Linked DNA regions of Homo sapiens: region 2 is linked to region 1. Evidence: fine-mapped QTL for protein levels in blood plasma. A gene starts in region 1. The other region holds a variant in brackets. All regions are shown on one strand. Distances are from middle to middle. Region 1 holds the start of KLRB1 (killer cell lectin like receptor B1). Region 2 has its middle 7.8 kb from the start of CLEC2D.

Region 1 (2,920 bases):
TCACAATAGCAAAGACTCGTGAACCATCCCAAATGTCTATCAATGATAGACTGGATTAAGAATATATGGCACATATGCACCATGGAATAGTATGCAGCCATAAAAAAGGATGAGTTCATGTCCTTTGTAGGGACATGGATGAAGCTGGAAACCATCATTCTGAGCAAACTATTGCAAGGACAGAAAACCAAACACCGCATGTTCTCACTCATAGGTTGGAATTGAACAATGAGAATATTTGGACACAGGGAGGGGAACACCACACACCGGGGCCTGTCGTGGGGTGGGGGGAGGGGGGAGGGATAGCATTAGGAGATATACCTAATGTAAATGACAAGTTAACGGGTGCAGCACACCAACATGGCACATGTATACATATGTAACAAACCTGTACATTGTGAACTTAAAGTATAATAATAATAAAAAAAGGTAAAAAAAAAAAAGTAGACACATACTATAATCACCTTGAAAAAAAAAGAAAGTCTTTCAAAGAGATAAAAAATTCCATATACTCCACTTCCTACAATTCTGGCAGTTTCCAAATACTTTTACTTATGTGAAAATGCTATCATATCCAAGAGTGCCTTTAGAGCTAAGCTAACAGTAGGCTACTGATCTTTAGCACATTGCTTTTTCTGTTGTGTTATTCAGGGGGCTTTCTCACATTTATGTTTCCATTTTTCACATTTCACAACTTTCTTTGGAGCACAGATATTTCAGGAAGATTTTAGAGCCTTTGAATAGCATTATGGACTTTTTTGCATTAATTTTTACTTTTACAAAATTGTGCTAAATATTATTTCTGTTAATTAGTGAGTTTTGTTGGGGGCCCCTTAAATTGGAACCCCAGGCTATGCCTCATTTGCTTCACTCTGGTCCTGGCCCTGAGAGAGGAACACAAAAGGGATGGTTAGAAAAACAAGAACAAATGAGCCTCCCAGAATTTTCTCAAACAACAGGCCAGTTAATTAAGGAAAGTAGATATTACATAGCTAGGTATAATGAACATGCAGTCAGTGGATTGTCTCAGTAATTTATGGAGATAACCACCAACAAAAAGTGTATGTGGGTGGGGACAAAAGAGAGACAACAAAGTACTGCAGGCAGAAAGCTTCCTTTTGCTGATTTTGCCTCACAGAATTGAGAGTTTGTTCTTACACACAAGTTTAATGCCACCTTCCTCTGTCTGCCATGGACCAACAAGCAATATATGCTGAGTTAAACTTACCCACAGACTCAGGCCCAGAAAGTTCTTCACCTTCATCTCTTCCTCGGGGTAAGTGGCTTTAATTTTCCTTTCGGCATTTGTATGTCTTCCAGAATTAGATCTTCCTGTTACATTTATGGCTTTAAATCATTGCTTTAAAGATGAGCAGTAGTTTTATATTAATGTTTAACGGGTGTTGCATGGCTTGCCTGTAGATAATCACAACTTTGGGAAAAAAAATTTAAACCTCATACATTTATTTTTTTCAATCAAGTTAGCATGAAAAGCAAACATCACTTGTCTTACTGAGCCTTGGTTAAAAGACTCTGAACACTTTAGGCTACCCTGGGCACACTGCCTATTGGTTACCCCTGCTCTACAGGGATGGAAAGAAGGAAGAAAGAAAGAAAGAAAGAAAAGAAAGAAAGAAAGAAAGAAAGAAAGAAAGAAAGAAAGAAAGAAAGAAAGGAAGAAAGAAAGAAAGAAAGGAAAGAAAGAGAAAGAAAAGAAGAAAGAAAGAAAGGAGAGAAAGAAAAAGAAAGAGAGAGAAAGGAAAGGAAAGAAAGAAAAAGAGAAGGAGGAAGGAAGGAAGGATGGAAGGAAGGAAGGAAAAATATTTTACATGTATGAACTAAGGAATATTTAAGACACATTGCAAACTTGCTGTAATAACAACCTACGTTATTCCAAATTCCTCTACAAAATATCAATACTATGATTAAGTCCCAGTGCATTTTCATCCATAATATTCCTTTCAGAATACAACGTGTAGGCCAGTTGCAGTGGCTCATGCCTGTAATCCCAACACTTTGGTAGGCTAAGGTGATTTGCTTGAGTCCAGGAGTTTAAGGCCAGCCTGGGCAATGTGGCAAAACCTCATCTCTACAAACAATACAAAAAAATAGCCAAGTGTGGGGCACGTGCCTGTGGTCCTAGCTACTCGGGAGGCTGAGGTGAGAGGATTGCTTGAGCCCAAGAGATCAAGGCTGCAGTGAGCTGTAATTGTGCCACTGTACTCCAGCCTGGGTGACACAGCAAGACTATCTCAAAAAAAAAAAAAAAATATATATATATATATATATATATATACTTTTTATACATATATTTTATATATTTTATATATATATATATACTTTTTATACATATATTTTATATATTTTATATATATATATATAAAGTGTAGGCTTAATGAGTAACATACTTCACTCTCTCAAGAGAGGGGAACACTTTCTGGAAAAAAAATCATATTCAAGATCAAAGATTTGAATATCATTACTACCTGATAGTTTCTAGTTTGAAAAGTATCACAGCTTAGAAAGAGACAAGCCACAAAAATACTCGAGCATATCAGTAACGAACCTACTTACCATTTGTTGAAACTGGCACTTTCCTGTGTCTCTGAAGAGTTAGCATTCTGAGTGAAAGAAGCGGGGAACACCAATGTGAGGTAACACATGATGGATAGCATGGCCTGTGGATGGATGGGAAGAAACTAGAAACTGAGGCAGAAAATCAGCATGAAATTATTATGACACATTATTATTTTCTGATATCTAACTGAATTTACTATCATTGATAATATTACAATTGTTTACCAATCTGATATTCATTCCATGTCATGCCAAGCATTTGACTTGTGCTGTTTTAAGACTGTTTAAGTTTTAAACTATTGAATTCTCAAAGTTTTAAGTCAAGAAGAAAGTCTTAGAGCCG
Region 2 (2,920 bases), 54 kb before region 1:
ACAGCAACACAGAGGCAAATTCCCATCATTGGAAATCCAGAAACTGACTGAGCCACTCCTGTACCCTAGGTGAGTGTGAAACTATCCACATCAAAACTGATAGGAAAAAACTTGCACACACTGTGATCATAACCCCCAACCCTAATACAATGCCATATGATCGGGAAGGAACTCCCATCTCTTAGTCTATCCCTGAGGAGTGAAGGGTTTGGACCACCTATCTGGTATCACAACTTCTCTAGATACTACCAGATAGACTGGTTTCTAATTTCCCTGTTTTGGTGAGCTGACAGGGCCCAGCATCTGCTAAACCTCTGGGGCTACACAAACCAAAACAGCAGTTGCTTTTAAAATAATAATTGTTATAGCCCTGTTACTTCAAATATTTTCAGAGCGGTTTTTAATAAGCATGTGGGCACTTCCCCCTGCTCCCCACTTTGGCTCAGTGCAGTGATAAAGCCTGGCTTCCAGCTTCTCTCTGAAAAGCAAAGGAGACAGACCAAATAACTAGCACCCCAGCTTTTCTGGCTGCTACCTGAGGAACTGGATTTTATCTCATGTATCTGAGAGCACTGGAAGGGCCTGGCATACTCTAGATGCCTGAGGACCATTAAGAACAAACATTGTGGTTTCAACTACCAGGAAGGTTTAAGTGGCACCCAGAACCTCTGTCTGGACTGATTGGTAAAGGTGTTGTCCTATCTGAGACCTGTCTGTGAAGACTGGAAAGGAAGCTGTTTTATCTGGTGCACAGACACCAATGCAGACAGTCAAGGAAAATAAAGAAATGGAAAATATGTTCTAAATGTTACCCACACAACAGGTGGGTTCAGTCACTTGGCAGGTATCAACCCAATGACCACCGACAAGGTGGATTTAGCAAGGAGATTTTGTTCTTACAGAAAGTAAAGAGAACACTGGACAAAGCTCCCAAAGTAGTACCTCGCCAAGCTGGGAGGTGGGTCAGGTTTTATAAGCATAGGGTAGTGAGGAATAATCTGATTGGATCTTGCAATGAGGTGATGCTGGGAGGCAAGATCTGACTGGATCCTGCCATGAAGTGATGCCTGAGTTCTATCCAGTTGGATCCTGGATCCTGCCATCCTGTGTCCACCTCTTAATTCGGTCCCTGTACCTCAGTCTGAATGATTAGGTTTCCCTTGTGGTTGCACACTTGTTTCACCTGTCCATGCTCAGGTTACATGACCTGAGTGAGGGTCCATGACAACTGAAGAACAACTCACAGCTTTGTTACCATAAAAGTTGAACCATGCATGTTTATTGCTGCACTATTCACAATAGCCAAGACATGGAATCAATGTAGATGCCTATCAACAGTGTTCTGGATAAAGAAAATGTGGTACATATACACCATGGAATACTACACAGTCATAAAAAAGAACAAAGTCATGTCCTTTGCAACAAAAGATGCAGCTGGAAGCCATCATCCTAAGTAAATTAATGCAGACACAGAAAAACAAATACCACATACTCTCACGTATAAGTGGGAGCTAAATGCTGGAAACATGTGGACATAAAGATAGGAAAAATAG[G/A]CTTCGAATTAAGAGAGCAGGGAGAGAGGGAAGATAAGGCAAGTTCTGAAAAACTACCTATTGGATATTATGCTCACTACCTGAGTGATGGGATCATTGGTATTGTAAGATCAGCGTCATGCAATACACCCATGTTAACAAACCTGCACACGTACTTCCTAAATCTAAAATAAAATTTGAAATATAAAGAAAACAAAAAACAAACCCAAACATCTTGCTGGTAATACAGAAAATATGGCTCATGGTAGTGGAAGCCCCCATAAAGCATGTGTGATTCAAAAAAATAAGAATCAAAGCTGAAAAATGAAACATACAGACCAACCATATCTATAGGAAGCACTCTGTAAATGAGGTAGCATGGAAAAAAAAGATTATGTTGAATAAAAAAAAAAAAAGTTGAACCAGATTTGTTAGGAAAGCAGGAGCATAGGAAAGCCAGAGTGACACTATTTTAAAATCAACTCCATCTAAAAACTAGCAAGGCACTTCCTTGACAGTTATGACCTACGATTATAAGATGTTTACAGCTAAGGAAGCGATTTAGTAATGCTGCAAGGACAAACTCCTACGACAGCAGAATGTCCAGATGTCCCAATATCACATAACAATACATGCTTTTAAGGTAGCTAAAGTCATACTTTGATGTACTTATGCACTAAGATGACAAGGATAAGTTTCTTTATATCAACAAAATACTAAATTTTGTCACACTGACAGCCTACCCACATGTAGACATAGCTTAGGTTTTACATAGATTAAACCCCTATAAAAGAAGAGTTTAAAACAAAGACAGCACATTCCTCCTCCTGCTTTTGGAGGATGCCCTACTCTGTAACTGAGTAGCTTTCAATAAACTGTCTATTCTCTCTACACTCTGTGACTCTCCTTGAATTCCTTCCTGCAGGAGATCCAAGAACCCTCTTTCATGGTCTGGTTCAAGAGCCCCTTTCTGACAACAGATCAGTCTGGAGCAGTTACAAATCCCCTCCTTTTTATGTCCATTCCTCAATCTTGAGGGAAAGGGATGATGACCATTCTAACTACTTCTTGCTGATTAGGGACATAAACGTTGGTTAGAGTAATAAAGTTGTTTAGCGCTTTACTGTAGGAGTTCCCTGGTATTAGGGCTGCATTTCAGATGGAGTTGTTTCCATCCAGTTCTAGAGAAAGGTACAGAGAGTTAACAACTTAACATTGTTTGCTCCAGAGAACAAAGGGAATGCTCAGATTTTATAGCAAGTATTCATACCCAGGCTCCCAATCAAGTCTTCTACACAAATAAATGGTTAAAATTTGAAACTCGCTTAGTTTTCATTAGTCAATACAGCTGATCCCTGATTAGCTGACACAAGTGAGCTTTAATTGAT

The links. PIP is the posterior inclusion probability: the model's chance that the variant is causal. The UK Biobank Pharma Proteomics Project read protein levels with antibody pairs (Olink). The fine-mapping took linkage between variants from a reference panel, not from the people measured, so its PIPs are less certain.
Region 2: its variant is fine-mapped to the plasma level of the KLRB1 protein (UK Biobank, PIP above 0.99).

Annotation. Positions count from the first base shown.
Region 1 is chr12:9,606,111-9,609,030 of GRCh38, reverse strand. It overlaps KLRB1 (killer cell lectin like receptor B1), which reads left to right and starts at 1,115. Exons shown (of 6, transcript NM_002258.3): 1 at 1,115-1,276. The coding sequence starts at 1,192.
Region 2 is chr12:9,660,413-9,663,332 of GRCh38, reverse strand. No RefSeq gene overlaps it. Among named protein-coding and RNA genes, the nearest start is that of CLEC2D, 7.8 kb to the left of the region's middle. The variant G/A (reference allele first, on the strand shown) is at 1,554.